2 separate regions of the Homo sapiens genome follow, and region 2 is linked to region 1. A link means that fine-mapping ties the variant in region 1 to the expression of a gene that starts in the linked region. Tissue or cell type: whole blood. Region 1 holds a variant in brackets; the other region holds the start of a gene. All regions are shown on one strand. Distances are between the middles of the regions.

The links. PIP is the estimated chance that this variant, and not a neighbour inherited with it, causes the effect.
Region 2: it holds the start of MDGA1, and the variant in region 1 is fine-mapped to the expression of MDGA1 in whole blood (INTERVAL, PIP above 0.99).

The regions. Positions count from the first base shown.
Region 1 is chr6:37,579,254-37,587,355 of GRCh38, reverse strand. It overlaps LOC124901313 (a long non-coding RNA gene), which reads right to left. Exons shown (of 2, transcript XR_007059568.1): 2 at 6,794-7,026. Among named protein-coding and RNA genes, the nearest start is that of MIR4462, 28 kb to the right of the region's middle. RefSeq lists enhancers at 1,797-2,469, 2,470-3,143. The variant C/T (reference allele first, on the strand shown) is at 3,268.
Region 2 is chr6:37,693,171-37,701,272 of GRCh38, reverse strand. It overlaps MDGA1 (MAM domain containing glycosylphosphatidylinositol anchor 1), which reads left to right and starts at 3,390. Exons shown (of 17, transcript NM_153487.4): 1 at 3,390-4,528. The coding sequence starts at 4,462. RefSeq lists silencers at 2,279-2,348, 2,369-2,438, 3,305-3,434, 3,455-3,524, 3,585-3,714 and 3 more and enhancers at 4,037-4,766, 4,767-5,496.

The sequences.
Region 1 (8,102 bases):
CTTGGAAAAAAAAAAAGAAAAGAAAAAAAAGCAGCTCCTTGAATTGATGGGAAGTTGAGAAGCAGGCTTGGAAAACTGGCCAGAAGCAAAATAGGCTGGTTGAAGGGGAGGCAGGCAGTCATGGCCAGAGACAGCCCAGCTAGGGCAGGGGACATTGCCGCCTCTGGACACCGGCCACCTGAGGACACCCAGCTCATCTGGACACTGGTACATCATGAGCAATTTGTGACGGTCCCACTTTTGCATCCCACTCTCTCCAGGTCAAGATCCCAGACAAAGGGATAGTAGGAAGGAGTTTTTTGGGAACTGTTCTGTGTCCTGATTGTGGTGGTGGTGACATGAATCTATGCTTGTGCTAGAAATTCATAAAACAGCCATGCCCAGTGGCTCACACCAGTAATCTCAGCCCTTCGGGAGGTTGAGGCAAGAGGATTGCTTGAGCCCAGGAGTTTGAAACCAGCCTGAGCAACATAGTGAGACTCTGTCTCTATTATGTAAACAATTTTTAAATATAAAAATAGAAAACCACAAAACTATACACCAAAATAATTACATCAATTTTGCTCTATGTTAATTTAAAAAATAAAATCCTGGACAAAAACGCCCTACTGGCCACAGTAGTTTGTGTGCCCACAGACGAGTTGCCAGGTCAGGGAAGGGAGACGCTGCCACAGTCTCGGCTCACTGTAACCTCTGCCTCTGCACCCCTTTGGCTTTCAGAATGAGTTGGGTCTCTGCCATCCAGATTCACACTGTGGGAAATTCTGCTAAGAGGGAGGGAGCTTGGATACAGGGCAGCCAGCAGATGGGCAGATACCCACTTCCCCCAAGGCGCCTTTGGGTCCTTGGGAGCTTCTGAGGAAATGGCCCCCGACCCCACTGCGATGGCCACCCCTTCAGTCCGACCAGCAGCTCCTGAAGGGGAGGAGCAAGAGCAAGTTTCCTACCCAGTGGACAGAGGGGAACGTGATCACCATGCCAGAGCAGGTGCACATGCTCAGGCTCTGATGCATGTTCACGCAGCCCCCCAGCATCAGTCTGGTCATCAGGGGACCTGAGGTTGCATCTGGACTTTGGCCCTAACTTACTGCATGATCTTGGATAAATCCCTCTCCCCTCTGGGCCAAGTTGTCTCCTCTGTGGAATGCGGGGCTTCTCGACGGTGCTGTCCAGCTCTGGCATAGTGAGCACTGAGGCACCACAACGAATTGAACTGGCTCTTAGGAAGCCTGGGTAAGTCCATACCACTGTCCTGGACTGCAGTGGGTGGGTGAATGACCACATGTCGCAGGGAGACTCCACAGGTCCTCCCGATGAGAAGCACTCTTATGCCAAAGAGGAGACTCAGGCCAAAGTAAGGACACTCCCCCTCCAGAGAGTAGGAGTGCAGCGTGGGTGATTCCCCTCCTGTTTGCCAGTGCGAGGATGGGACTCTGGGAGCCTGGGGATGGGAGGTACAGTGGGTTTCCCAGGCCTGGACCCAAAGGGGATTGTATCCTCTGAGACCCCAGGCTCCAGGGCAGTGGGGATCTTGAATCAGGAGTATTTAACAAGCTCAGCGCTGGGCTTCACATACCCCAACTCTCAGTGTCCAGGCTTGTGGATGACATCCTCCCTGGAAAAATGCAATTCCTGATTCCTACAGCTTGTGTGCAGAGCAGCAGGGAGGGATAGCTTCTAGGTCCTGGATGTACATGAGTGTGCATCCGAGCTTCTCTCCCTTCCTCTGAGCCACTATGACACCTTGATCCCCTCACCACTTTAAGCACCTCTTCCAGCCCTTTCCTTGTCTGAAGAGCTTGCTCTCCCCCTGGCATCATGTGGGTGAATGGGGGTCTTGAGAGGCGGTGGGAGGAGCCCACATCCCAGGGGGTCTGGGGAGGCTGAAGGCAAGGGGAACAGTGACAGTGTGGCTTTCTGCACGGTCTGAGAGATCAGACAAGATGACAACAGCGAGACGGCTCAGAATCCTGGCAGAGGAGGCAGGGCTGGGGGCAGGGCTGGGGACACACACACACACCTGGGGCCTCCTCTCCTACATTCACATGGCCCTGGGCCCTGCTCTCTCCCTGCCCCCCTGCCCACCTGGAGCCCTGCTGCCTGGCCTGGGCCAGGATCCCAGAGAGGAAGGTGGGGAGGGAAGGTGGCAGGGGGTCTCCAAGGGGCCTGCCCTACATGGCAGGAGGCGGGCAGGGGAGGCAGGGGAATGTGCCACGGGACAGCATAGGCTTCCCTGAACTCATTCACCAAAAAAGCATGAGCCTTTCCCATAATTTTAAAGGTACCCTGTTGACCTGCCATGTTGCTATGGCTGTATGAGAAGATGAAACCAAGAGAGGCAACGCCGAGTGTCAGAAAGGGCGCCTTTCTCTGGCCTGCTCCCTCAGCAACCACAGGGCCCATCCTGTCCCATCCCCACCCCGGCTGCTGGGTACGTGGCTCCAGCAGCTCGGGGAGGCTGGGGCCCTCTGCCCTGGGTGTGGCGATGGAGAGTGTGAAACTGGACACCAGGAGCACAGAGAAGGGAGAAGGGGGAAAGCCCACTGGGAGCCAGCATTTTCCAAGGCTCTTTGTGCTGTCATGGTGGCAGAGGTGAAAGGTCCATCCAAGCTCCCTGGCCGCCCCCAGCTCGTGGGGAGGCACACAGATTAGCAACGACAACCCAGCTAATGCAGTTGGAGAGGGTGAGCACAGGGTCGGCAGGAGGAGGCGCCGACCCCACCAAGGGAGGAAGACGCAGCAGTGAGCCCCAGGGGAGAGGCCAGGGAGAGAGGCAGGAGGGGAGTTCAAGGGGCACCTGGAGGCCAGGAGGGGTGCTGGGGCAGCATAATTACACCTGTTCAGTGTGGAGCTGCTGGGATTCCTTCTGCTGTGTGTCCACCTGCTTTATATGAGTTGATTATGAGTTTGATTCTTGGCACAAAGTTAGGATGATGGAAATGCATTCTGGGCTCTTCAGTCGGGTACTGTTAACCCGCATGTGGGTTCTGAGCACCAGAAATATGGTGAGGATGCTGAGGAGCTGAGCTTCCAGCTGTATTACTTTTTTTTTTTTTTTTTGGGACGGAGTTTCACTCTTGTCACCCAGGCTAGAGTGCAATGGCATAATCTCAGCTCACTGCAACCTCCACTTCCAGGTTTCAAGTGATTCTCCTGCCTCAGCCTCCCCAGTAGCTGGAATTACAGGCGTGCACCACCATGTTAGCTAATTTTTCTATTTTTAGTAGAGACAGGGTTTTACCACGTTGGCCAGTCTGGTCTCAAACT[C/T]CTGACCTCAGGTGATCCAATGGCCTCGGCCCCCCAAAGTGCTGGGATTACAGGCGTGAGCCACCGTGCCCGGCCCACCTGTATTACATTTTAATTAATACAAATGCAAATGTTAAGTAGCCACCAGGGCCTCATAGCTACTGTGTGGGCAGCAGAGTATGGACACACTGGGGTACAGTGTTGATGTTGGAGAGACAGACATTCAACCAATACCCATTGGTCTAGTGTCAGGTTGTGATAAATGCTATGGAGAAAAACTGAGTTAGAGGGATGTAGCCGGCTGCTGTTCTAGAAAGGGTGGTCAAGGAAGGGTCTTGTAAAAAGGTGACCTGTGCAGAGACTTGTGTGCAAGGAGAGGATGTCCCTGGGGTATTCGGGGAGGCCACAGTGCCTGAAGCATCGTGGGAAACAAAGTCCAAGTGGATCCAGGGGCCAAAGTCAGTCGGGCCTTGCAGTCATGGAAAGGAGTGTGGGTTTTGTGTTATGAAGTGAAGCCCTTGGTCATTGCCACAGCTGACAGGACCAGGAATTAGCTACCCTGGTAAACCCAGCTATCGACTGCACCCGAGCGGCTACACACCACTGGAGCAGTTCAGGGAGAAAGCCACCGGCATGCTCACCGTATGTCTCTGGCTCTGTTTCCTCTTTCTGCTTCCCCTTCCCCACCTCTGAGTCTCTGTGTTCTGCTCATGCCAATTCCCCTTCTGCCTGTCTCTGCCCGCTTCTCTCTGGGCTGGTCTCTCCGAGACTCTGTTCCCTTGGCTGGCATGCCCTCCACCTCCCCTGATGGTTCAGCAGAGATGAAGCCGGCCTGGCTCATGGGTGTGGGTAATGTACTAGTGCAGGAGAGTGGTGGGGCCCAGTCTGGGTGCAGGAGTGAGAGGCATTAAGGCCTTAAAGACCCCTCATTCATGCCCAGGAGAAAGGCTATCCCAGCTCTGGGAAAGGGTGGTGGAGAAGGCTGTGGGAGGGGAGTCCTGTTCTACAGGCAGAGCCAGGATTTGCCCGGGACCCCAGGAACAGGGTAAGCAATGCTCACCATTTCCCAAGGTAACCAGGATAGAACGACCCTTCCCAGCTCCTTCCCAGCTCTTTCTCAGCCTCCATCTCAAGGAGACGCAAGGGGCTGGGGCGAAGGGTGTACAAGAGTTTCTGTCTACCCAGTGGGTCTCTGAAGAGCAAAATGGAGGGGTGGCGTGTATTAGTTTCCTTGTTGCAGCTTTCACAAATTACTACAACCCTTGTGGCTTAAAGCAACACACATTTATTTTCTTATAGTTCTAGGAGTCAAGAGTCCAAAATGAATCTTATAAGGGCTGAGAGGAGTGGCTCACCCCTGTAATTCCAGCACTTTGGGAAGCTGAGGTGGATGGATTGCTTGAACCCAGGAGTTTGAGACCAGCCTGGGCAACATGGTGAAAACCCATCTCTACATAAAATACAAAAAATTAGCCGGGTGTGGTAGTGCATGCCTGTGGTCCCAGCTACTTAGGAGGCAGAGGTTGCTGTAAGCTGAGATCATGCCACAGCACTCTGGCCTGGGAAACAGAGTGATATCCTAGCTCATAAATAAATAAATAAATAAATCTTCTGGGGCTAAAATCAAGGTGTTGGCAGGACTGCATTCCTTTCAGAGGCTCCGGCCCAGGGCGGGGGAGGGGCTTCATTGTTGGCCTCTTCCAGTTTCTAGACGCTGCCAGCATTTTTTGATTTGGCGGCGACATCACTCCAGTCTCTGTGTCTACCACCATATCTCTGACTCTCCTGCCTCTTCCATTTATGGGGACCCTTGTGATGACACTGGGCCCACCCCAGTAACCCAGGATAATCTCTCCTTCTCAAGATCCTTAATTTAATCATACCTACAAAGTTCCTTTTCTATAAGGAATAAGGAATAAGATAGCATACACAGGCTGCAGGGATTAGGACGTGGACTTCTTGATGGTGGCCGTATTCCACCTATCACAGGGGCTCCACACAGGGTAGACTGCTGCAGCCCCGTGAGGACAGAACTCTGTCTTTTCTCACTGCTGTTCCTGCCTTCTAGAGCTTGGGCAAAGTCACAGGATTGCACGGGCTCTGGAGCCACCTGCATTCATTCCTGGCTCTGCCTCTTCCTAGTGGTGATCCTTGGCAAGTCACTTAACCCATCTGTGCCTCAGTTTCTTTCTGTGTAAAATGGGGATAATAACAGTACTACCCTCAAAGGTTTTTTGTAAGGATTCGATGAGTTAATCCATCTAAGGTGCAGAGAAGCATGTCTGGCACGTCCATAAGGGCTCCGGATGGAATGTGCAGTGCCCAGCACATGGCGAGCATGTCACCTACCATCATTCTGATTGCAGTTCCTTCTCTAACGCTTCCCATGGGCCCAGCCCTGGGATAGGCCTGTGGCAACTACCGAAGAAGGCAGGGCATTTCTTGTGCTCAAGGAATTCAGACTTGCATCAGGAATACAAAGGCTCAGCCGGGCATGGTGGCTCATGCCTATAATCACAGCACTTTGGGAGGCCGAGATGGTTCTATCAATGGAGGCCAGGAGTTTGAGACTAGCCTGGCCAATATGGTGAAACCCCCATGTTTACTAAAAATACAAAAATTAGCCGGGCATGGTGGGACACGCCTGTAATCCCAGCTACTCTAGAGGCTGAGGTGAGAGAATCACTTAAACCTGGGAGGCAGAGGTTGCAGTGAGCTGAGATCACGCCACTGCACTCCAGCCTGGGCGACAGATGGAGAAACTCCATCAATAAAATAAAATAAAATAAAATAAAATAAAATAAAATAAAATAAAATAAAATAAAATAAAATAAAATAAAGGCTTATAGAAACATAAAACTTTACTTTTTCTGGAAGGACTTCTAAAAATTATTTCACAAATGTTTGTGCTCTTACGTTTTCTTCATGATGTATCTGTGATCATCACTGGTGCAATCTGCCAAGTCTCTCCAGCTCGCCGCCTTCTGGGCAGGTGGCAGAGTTGCACTCGTTGCCTCCATGTGGGTGGGCCAGGTTCTAGGACTGGTCCTGGCCAATGAGTTGTGAGCACCATGAAAGTGTCACTTTCAGGCCGTGGCATTTAATTCCTGGTGAGAGCGAGACCTTCCAGCGTTCTCTCTTGCCCTCTGTCACAGCGTCTCTGTCAGCCAGTGCTCTGAGTGACTGCCATGAGCACAGCCTCCTGCTGACCCACGACGAACATGGAGAGTAAGAATTAAATTGAGTTGTCTTACGGCCCTGAAATTTAGGAGTTGCTTGTCACCTCAGCATAACCTAGCCTCTCCTGACCGATTCAGCAACTAAACTTGTTTACAGAGGGAAAAATCCAATCAACACCATCACACTATTATTGATGACTCACCATTCAATCACCATCTCTGTACCAATCTATAACTTAAATAGCTGGGATCCATGAAGAACATCCACTTTTGTGCCTACTTTTCCATTCAACGTTTTTTCCCTGCGTGTTTCTATCAGTTAGAACTTGATTTGGTTATTAATGGCAGAAAATCCAAATTAACAATGATTAAACACCCAGGGTTACTTTAATCCCTCAAGTAAAAAGTTCAGAAGTAGGCAGTCCAGGGCTGACACGGTGACCTGGTGATAATGAATCAGCTTCCTTCTTTCACGTGACTCTGCCATGCACAGCAGATGCCTTCCTCCAAATGGCCCAAGGTGGCTGCTGAAACTCAAATGATCACAACTGCATTCCGGCCAGCGGGAAGGAAGAAAGCTCCAGGAGGGGCATGCTCCTCTCTGTAATGACATGTGTCACAGATGACTGTTCTGTTTATATCCCTTTGGCCAGAACTTGGTCACAAGGCCACACCTAGTTGCAAGGGATATTGGGAAATGGAATATCTCTTCTGGGCAGCCATGTACCCTGCTAAAGTTTTTTCTAAGGGTGGAAGAGAGATGGATCCAGGGAGGCAACCGGCAGCTGCTGCCACAGTGTGAGCTGTTATTCCTTCACGTATAAATTCCATGGCTTAATGACCAGTTTGGACCTTTCTAGTTTTTTTCACATTCCAGATAATCATATTAGTGCAAATTGCTTTTCTCCATTTGTGTTATTTCTTTGAGATTTATTTCCAAATGTGTGATAACCTGCCAAGCCGAAGGGCATGAGTTGTTCTCTCCGGCAGTAGCTGCTGCTGTTACATTTTGCTATAGCCCAAACAATAGAGCTGTGGAGAATTTAGGAGCCAATGTTCCCGTTTCCTCCCAGCTGGGCCAACATTGCCTCGTACTATTTTCATCTCTTTTAATTAATTTAACATGTGTGTTGTTTAAGGATGTTTTCGTTTTCATGTTATTCACTGGCAGTCAGCTGAGATTTGGGCCCAGGACTGGTTTCCCAACTACATTTTCTCACATATTAACTTTTTTTTTTTTCCAACTGGAAGGAAATCTTTAATGCCCATTTTAGAGCTGAGAAAACTGAGGCCCTAAGGATGACGTCACATGCAGTTATGACAGAGGCAGTACTGCACCCTAGCTTGGACTCCTAGCCCAGTGCTCCTACAAACAGCGTGTTTAAAGGATAAAGGAGGTATATGATGGAGGCTGAAATGCAGTAAGAAAGCACTGGATGGGAAATTGTGGGCCTCCCTAGGTGAGGTTTGTTTTGACTAATTAACCCCCATGGCTTTGTGCAAGCTGCTTCCTTTCCCTGGGCCTCACTTTCCCCAGATGCAGAGTAGGAAGGGTGGAGCAGACCCTCTCCAAGACCCTTCCAGCTCTTGATGGAAAGTACAATAATCAGTGCTAGGACAACTGAGGAGGATGGGGTAGGAAGGTGGGGAAGACAGGGGAGATCCACGGGGCCTAGG
Region 2 (8,102 bases), 110 kb before region 1:
CCTGAAACCTCCTGGGGCCCAAGTGCTAGGTTTTCTTTGAGGCAAATATATATATATATATATATATATATATATATATATATACACACACACATATATATATATATATTTTTTTTTCTAGTGGGAAGTGACCTAGAATGATCTTGAGTGGAACCGAAGACTTGGCAGCTGGGTGCTGACCACCAAGCCTCCAGATAGCCTGACCTCAGGCTCATCCTGTGCCCTATGGCCCATGTCAGGTCTAGCAGTCTAGCTCTCATGTCCCCCCTGCCCTTGGTGCAATTTGGGGGCCAGAGTATTGTTCTCTGTGTCTGTAAAGGGAACAGGAAACAGTTCTTGTGGAAACATTATTTGATACCTAGGCCCTTGCCCCTCTTCAGTATAGAACAGTGGGAGAGGGCAAGGTCGCCGAGCCAAGCTACTGAGGTCAAAGCTCAGTTTGGCCCCTTAGCAGCTGAGTGAGTCACTACATCTTCCTATGTCATTCCATGAGAATAACAGCCCTGTCTTACATAATGGTTATGAAGATTAAATAGTTAATACAGTGCCTGGCATGTGGTGTCAGCTGTTATTCTTATTACTCCACTTCTCTCTAGGAAGACAGGGATCTTACCTAGTTTACATCTGGGGAAACTGAGGCCTAGAGAGGTTAGGACTGGGACGCAGGACTGATGTCTAGGGCTCTTTCCCTTCTCTGAGGTTGCCTCCCATTGTCAGACACTGGGCTGTGTTGAGGCAGCAGGCAGGGCACACTTGGGGGAGGAGACAGCTGAATTTACAGACACACACAAACAGGCTGTCAAGGTATTTACACTGCATACAATTAGCTGCAGAGTATTCACAAGTGGATTAGCTACAGCAAATGTTCAATCCCAGCCTGGCTAACTTGGTCCTCTGTTCCCCCCACCCCGCCATCATGAACCTTCTTTCTCCTCCAGGCTAGTGTGTGAGTTTAGAGAGGGCAAAGTCAAGAGAATGTCAGCTGAGTCAGTGCAGTTCTCTGTCCCCAGTAACTCACCCCAAAGCCAAAGAGGAGCAATTGACTGCTGTTTGGTGTTGGAACAGCTAATTGGAAAATCAGAGCGCAGTTTCGCACGACATGGAGAAGTACACATTCAGCTCAGAATGGGCAAAGCCAGGAAGAGCCACAGTCGCTGTGATCACTCCCTGAGAGCTTCCTGGAAGGGGTAGAGACTTCCAGGAACCCTCTAATAATGGGAAGAGGATGACAATAGAAGAAGCTATCCCTCATCACTCCCTCAATTGGCACCACTTCCTTTTCTGACTGGATGGGGGAGGCGGGAAGAGGCATGGTGGCTGTGTATCTCTGTGGGACAGAAAATGAATTTTTTGCCTTTGAGGTAACAGTCCGGGGCTGGGGAGTGAAAGGATGGCTACCCTGAGGGTATCCCAGGTCTGTGATATCTGGCCATGATGGGCATCATTCGTGAATTCACTGAACATGTCTGCAGCTGGCATCTGCTGGGAGCACCGCACTGAGTCTGGACTTCCTATCAGCCTTGGACCCACGGGGTAGAAAGGAGAGAAAAGACGGAAGAGGGCACAAGGGAGGCGCAAACGAGTGGAGGTGGGCTAGAGAATAGGAATCTTCGGATGTTCTCGGGCTTCCTGAGATGGACAGAAAGGGGGCTGAGAAAGGAAGGTGGAACCCCCCCATGCCACCAGGCACTTCCCGACACCTCCCGCTCCTCTTCCAGCAGTCAGGAGCGCGCGCTCCGGTGGGGCTTAAGCCCTGGAGAGTCAAGGGAGGAGAGACCCAGCAGGAAATGGGCCTGGGGAAGGGACGGTTCATTATTATTATTTTAAAAAAATTTATGTTTCAATTTATATGCAGACTAACCTTTTTGGAGTGTGGAGATCTTTGAGTTTTGACAAATGCATAGAGCCGTGGAACCACCATCAAGATATTGAGCAGTTCCAGGGGGCGAAGGGAGGGGGGGTTCGTAGTCTCCCCGCTTGTTAGCTGCTGCGATTGTCTGCGCTCCCACGGGCCGACCTAAAACAATTCTTGCGCACACGCTGAGATAAATAACGGCGACAGGTGGAGCAGGTGAGATTAGCAGGACCCGGGTTGGGCGCGGGGCGGGATCGGAGGCGCGGGGGAGGCCACCAGCCTCGCTTGCCAGCCTACGCCCCTCCCCGCGGGCGTTTGGGAGGAGCGTTCTCCGCACTCCTGCTCCGCGAGGGCCCCTTCGAGGCGGCTGAGACCCGAGTGCCGGACTCCCGCCGCTGGAGCGGGGCTCGGGTTCGGCAGCCGGAAGGAGGTGTGCCCCCGGGGCGCTTGGGGGCGCCTGAGGTCCCGAGGGGAGGCAAGATGGGAAGAGTGGCTAGCCGAGGAAAATGTGGGGTGACTTAGGGAAGCTCTGGCGGAGGGGTCGTGCGAGCAAACCTGTTGGCAACCTGTGGGCCGCGGCAAGGGCAGGAGCTCTCAGCGCGACCTCTCCGCCAGCTGCTCCGGCCCGGCCCCAGCACCAGACGCCTGGAAAGGGGCGGGGGCCTCTCGAGCCGGGCAGACAGCCTTGCAGACCCACAGCCGCGGCCCGTCTCGCGCGGCTGCAGGACCCCAGGAACCGCAGGCGCCCGGCCTTTCCCTAGGACCCCCGCTTCAGTCCCGCCTCCCCAAAGTGCAAAACATTTACGAAGTGTGCAGTGCCCTGCGGGCATGGGTCTCCGAAGCGAGCGGCCGTGTTTGCCCCGCGGGCTGCTGGCAACGGTGCACCCGGCTCGGCCAGCTAGTCTGGGTGTGCAAGGCTGGAGAACAGCGAGTGTGCGAGCGCGCGGCTGCAGAGCCCCCGCCGAAACCCAGGTCCCTCCGCCACTGTCCTCGGGATAGATGGATCCATTTCTGCTTTCTGACATTTTCCTGCTGGGCGGGGTTGGGGGGGAATGTTAGGGGGCGGAGAGAGGAAGAGAGAGAGAGGGAGAGGAGAAAGGGAAAGAGAGGAGAGGAGAGGAAGGGAGAGAGAGCGAGAGGGAGAGAGAGAGGAGAGAGAGAAGAGAGAGAGAGGAGAGAGAGAGAAAGAGAGAGAGAGAGAGAGAGAGAGAGAGAGAGAGAGAGAGAGAGAGAGAGAAAGAGAAAGAGAAAGAGAAAGAGAAAGGCAGGCAGTCAGCTTCCCCCAGCCCTGTTTTGTTTTCTCTAATTGGTCCTGGGGGAGGCGAGGAAATTGGACAGAGGCTGGGCCAGGCGAGCTGGGCTGCCTTTAATTGGCTCCTTTTTTTAACTGGAGGGGAATCAAACAGGAGAGCGAGCGACAACGGGTGGGAGAGCGAGAGACCGAACGAGGAGACGCGAGGAGGAGGGAGGAGGAAGAGAGGGAGGGAGGCGGGAGGAGCGCGGAATGAAAAGCTCGGAGGGGCGAAAAAGCAGCACAGCAAAGCCCAAGTTGCTGAGCGAGCGGAGCGCTCCCGCGGCCCGGAGCCGAGCGGCCGCCGCGCCCCGGAGCCCGGCCCGGCCCCGCCCGCTCTGGGCCCCCGCAGGCCAAGGCCGCCGGGCGGGGGCGGGGACGACCAACTTGGGGCGCGGCGTAGCCCCGCTCTCCCGAGAGCTCGGAGCCCGGGAGGGCTACGGCCGCGGCCAGACGGCGGGAGAGGAGCGCGGCGAGCGGAGGCGGCGAGCGGCGCCCGCGCCGCAGCCCCGGCCTGGGCGAGAGCGCGAATATTTTTCAAAAGACTCAAACTTTCCTCCTTTCCCCGTTTTCTGGGGCCCTTCTTGCCTGGAATTGCTCTCCAGATTCCCGCGGGGCGCCGGGCTGCTATTCTTCCCCCGGGTTTATCGGCGGCTCGGCTAACTTCACGGACCCGGGGACCCGCGGCGCTCGTCCCTCGGCCGAACCCAGCCCGCGCTGCTCCCCGGATCAGGAGGGCCGGGCCCGGGGCTGCTTCGCCGCCGCGAGTGCTTTCAGCCCGGCCCCCTGGAGTCGGGCCGCTGAGCCCACGGCAGCGGCCGCAGGACTGGAAACAGCAGATTGATTAACTCGAGCGGAGCCCCGGCCTCCCCGACTCCGCTCCGCTGAGGGGCGGCCCCAGTGCGGGGAAACGACAAGTTTGTCAGTCGTCCGTGGCCTGTTGGATCGAAGCGCCGCCTCCGCCGCCGAGAGGTCCCCGGCGCCTAGCATCCCGCGCGGACGGCCCTGGGTACCCGGGGCGGCTCGGCGGCCGGGCTCCTCGGGTCGGGGCGCTGGCTGCTGTGCCGGGCGCGCCGAGGCACCCGGGGCTGGGCCAGCGCCCCCTGCGTCCCCACGCGGGCAGCGGCCCCGCCGGAGGAGAAACACGGGTCGCCGCCACCTCCGCCTCTTCAGTCTCCTGGTCTTCGTCGCCGCTCTCTCTCTCACCTCTCAGGGAAAGGGGGGGACATAGGGGCGTCGCGGGGCCCCGGCGAATGCGCCCCCCGCCGCCTCTCGGGCTGCGCCGCCTCGCGGGGATGAAGCACCGGCCGTGAAGATGGAGGTGACCTGCCTTCTACTTCTGGCGCTGATCCCCTTCCACTGCCGGGGACAAGGAGTCTACGGTAAGAGCCCGCGTCCCGCTCCACCTTGGCTTAACCTCGCGCGGAAACTTTGCAAGAGGCGCAAAGTGCGCGCTGCCGGGGTTTGGTGGAGACCTCGACTCGGACTCTGGAGTGGATGCCCGCGTCCCCGCCCTCTCCAGGGCGCGTGGAGACCGAGCTAGCTGCTTCGGAACACAGGGGCCGGTCGTAGGGTCTGGTGGGAAGCCGGGATGTCAGGAGGAGGCACCCACTTTCCCACACCCTGCTAGAGGTGGGAATGATTAGGAACCCTTGAGAGCACCCGGTCGGCTCGGGAGACCCGGACAGACCCAGTCTAGGACTGGTGCAGCGACTTGCACCGAAACCTCGTCCTGGCTCGGCCTCCGGAGTGGAAGCCAAGCGATGCATGAGCCGGAGTTGCCGCGCGGCTTGCGGGCGAGCCGGCTGTCAGCACCAAGGCCGGGCGGCGGGCTCGCCTTCCCCGCTGTTGCTGCGGCTTCGCTTCTTCTACTCAGGGCTTGACACCCTGATCAGGATGCCGGCATCCCCTGGCCCTGGCGCCTTCGACCCCGGCATCCCTTTTCGGACCTTCCCTGAACCAGTTCTTCCTGTCCCCGGTTCTTGGCTACAAACCCCAACCCCACCTTCCTTCCTGCGCGCACACACAGATACATTCAGCCACCATCCCCAGAAAACGCAAACACGGCACGCACCCACCGGGATACGTGTCCAAACTCTGCCTCCTGCCACGCAGCCTTGCTCCTGCGTCCGCACGCCTCGCTGTGGTTACCAAGGGAGACTCTGGTTACCCCTTCCCCCTTCCATCCTGTGGGTTTTCCCAGGGAAGGCCCGGGGCAGGCATCATCCATTCAGTCACCTGGGCTCAGCCTCCCGCAGTGCCTTAACCCCACAGCACAAAAAATCATTCTCAGGGGCCCAGTGGCCCTTACTTTGCTTTCTCTTTACTGCAGGATGGTTTGTCCAGGTCCCTTTTTAGTGATGTGTGGCTGGGGCGGGCAGGATTCTCTCTTTCCTTTTCTGTTGGGTGGAGGGACTAATGATTCCTCTTTTAGATCCAGGGGAGGTTGACCTGTTCTTTGTGGGGTAGTATAGGCACTGACTACTGGTTGCCAGCCTCAGGTGCTGAGGCTAAAGCACCCTGGAGGGTGCTGACCCATCTGCCTGTGCCTGGCAAGAAGAAGGGGTGTCCTGAAGGGTGTCTGAGAGGTGACATGCTCCTGGCCCTGCCCAGCTAGCTGGCTTGGCCTTAATTCTCTGGTAAGACTAGCCCAGGCATCTGGCCAAACTCTGCTTCTTAATTAGTTTGTGTGTCTCTTACTGCCTGGCCCCTCACAGAGGCCAGGAAAGGCAGGAAAGAATGCAGCAGGGACTGGGAGAGGCTGGGTTTGGGGCGAGGAGGCCACGGGGCAGGTACTGGAGGCCTTGGCCTCTCCAGGGCAGATGAAGATGCCAGTGGACTGGGGTTTCACTTTCTTCTTTCTCCCCAGGTCAAGGTGCCTAAGAGAGGTGCTGCTGAGGTCTTTGCCTTCTCACCACAGCCCCGGGGCTGGGGAGGGTGATGGAGAGCCCTTCCTGCATGCTGCTGTCCTCCACTCTACCCTCCTTCCCTGTGTCATTGGGTGCATTTGGCAAGACCCACTCCTGGTCATCCCTGTCCTCCATCCCCTCCAGCTTCTCCAGCCTTCTCTAGGCTGCTTGGGGCTCATCTTTGGGAGGTTCCTCTGTTCCTAGTCTAGTAAACCCAGCAATGAGAGTGGGGTTTGGAGTCAGGGGCAGTGGTCTCTGTGGACCCTCATTTCAGAGTACTCTAGGGCCAGGATTCAGCCATAGGCTTATCTATACCCTTTTCTCTCTGTGTTTTCTCCCCTCCCGCCTGTGCCTAGGTCCCATTTGCTCTCACTCAGAGCCAATCAAAGTGGGCTGGGTGTGCTGGGGCCGACCCTGGGCCCTTGGGTGACATGCCACTTTTCCTTTGAGAGCTTGGCTTCAGGCAGTGTTGGGGCTTCAGGGAAATTGCTGGGTAAAAAGTCTTTATTGAGGTGGATGAAGGCAGAAGATTTAGGAGGAGGAGGAGGAGGATGACAGGAGGTCGCTGAGTTCCTTGTGATGCTAGAATCTTTGGCCAGATACAGCAGAAGGGAGGATCTCTGTAGGACCAGGACTGGCTTAAGAAGTAGGTCGAAGATCTGGGACTAGTTCTTCTGCCCCCCTCCCCAGCAGTCTTTCTGTACCCGCGAAGCAGAAGAAACAGCATGAGAGTGAAGGCGGCACATAGGGACCAGGGATGGCCACTCCAGCCTGGCATTGCATCCAGCATCCAGCATGGTCCCCGGCACAACAGCAGGAGCTAGGCAGGTATTTGTTGAATGAAGAAAGGGCTATAGTTGGGGGCAGGTTGGAAATTCTTTCTCCATGAGAAGTCTCTCTAGGACTTGGTTTCCAGCAGGGCAGTGGGGGCATTGTTTAAGGGTCTCTGCTTAGGGCGAGTCACAGAGTCCTATCCTGCAGCCCTAGAAGAGAGAAGAGGCTGGAAGCCTAGTATTGCCCTGGCACTGGGGAGGGAGGCAGCAGGTCTAATTCAAGACATAGGAGAAAAATGTATATCCTGGGGAGGAATCCCCTGCCCCTGCCCCTCTGCCCCCAGACCTGTGTGGATAAGGGAGGGGCTGAACAGAGGGGAGGAAGACGAGCAGGCGGTGGAGAGCGAACCTGACGGCATTCGGCCTAGGCTGTGTGTCTCTGCTGAGGCTGGTAGGAGGTAGGTGCCTAGAACCCTATGTCCTGCTTCCCACTGAGGTCCACCACCTGCCCTAGGATCCATGGTCTGCAATAGGGCTGGGGAGGCAGCACTCTCAGTTTGGCCAGGTGGCTTTGTTCTTTGGGGCACAGATGCTACAACGGCCAAGTGCTGGACCAGATGGTCCATTTGGAGCCAGTTCTCCCTCCCTCCTCGCCTCCCAATCTCCTGGCCCAGTTTGTTGTCCTCTGGGGTGGATCCTGTAATCTGCTTTCTGGCAAGCCAGGGGGCTGGGCTGGCCCCAGTGGCCTAGTTCTGGGGCAAAGGCAGTAGCCAAGTGATGGAAGAGGAATATCTTGCATGCGGATAGCGTCAGGGAACACCCCGCCTTCTGTCCCGGCTTCTGCTCCTCTCATAGCAGTCGGACCGCAGGTCAGTGGGATTCCTCTCCCTTACAAAAACACAACAAACCCCTGAATTATTTAATATGCAGAAGTGGGAATTGACATTATCCTTAAGACAGGTTGTTTGCAACTTACTGGTGGAAGTCAAAATATTTCACCAAAGGTGTCATCAGAAACTACTATCCTATGTTAATTTTTGTAGGAACATGAAGACAGATGTTGAATAATTTGACAAGAGCAACACAGCTTACAGAATTATCACTAAGTCAGGTTTTTTTCCCTCCTCTGGGGAGCACGGAGAAGGAATTTCAGGAAGTGAGTGTCCCAGTGTCATCTCCCGGGTGTTGATCTGGGTGTGGGCACTTGAGGTTTTTCACTGGAGTTCCTACCCCATGCCTTGAAACTTTGGTTTCCTGGGGCTAACAGAGGCTTG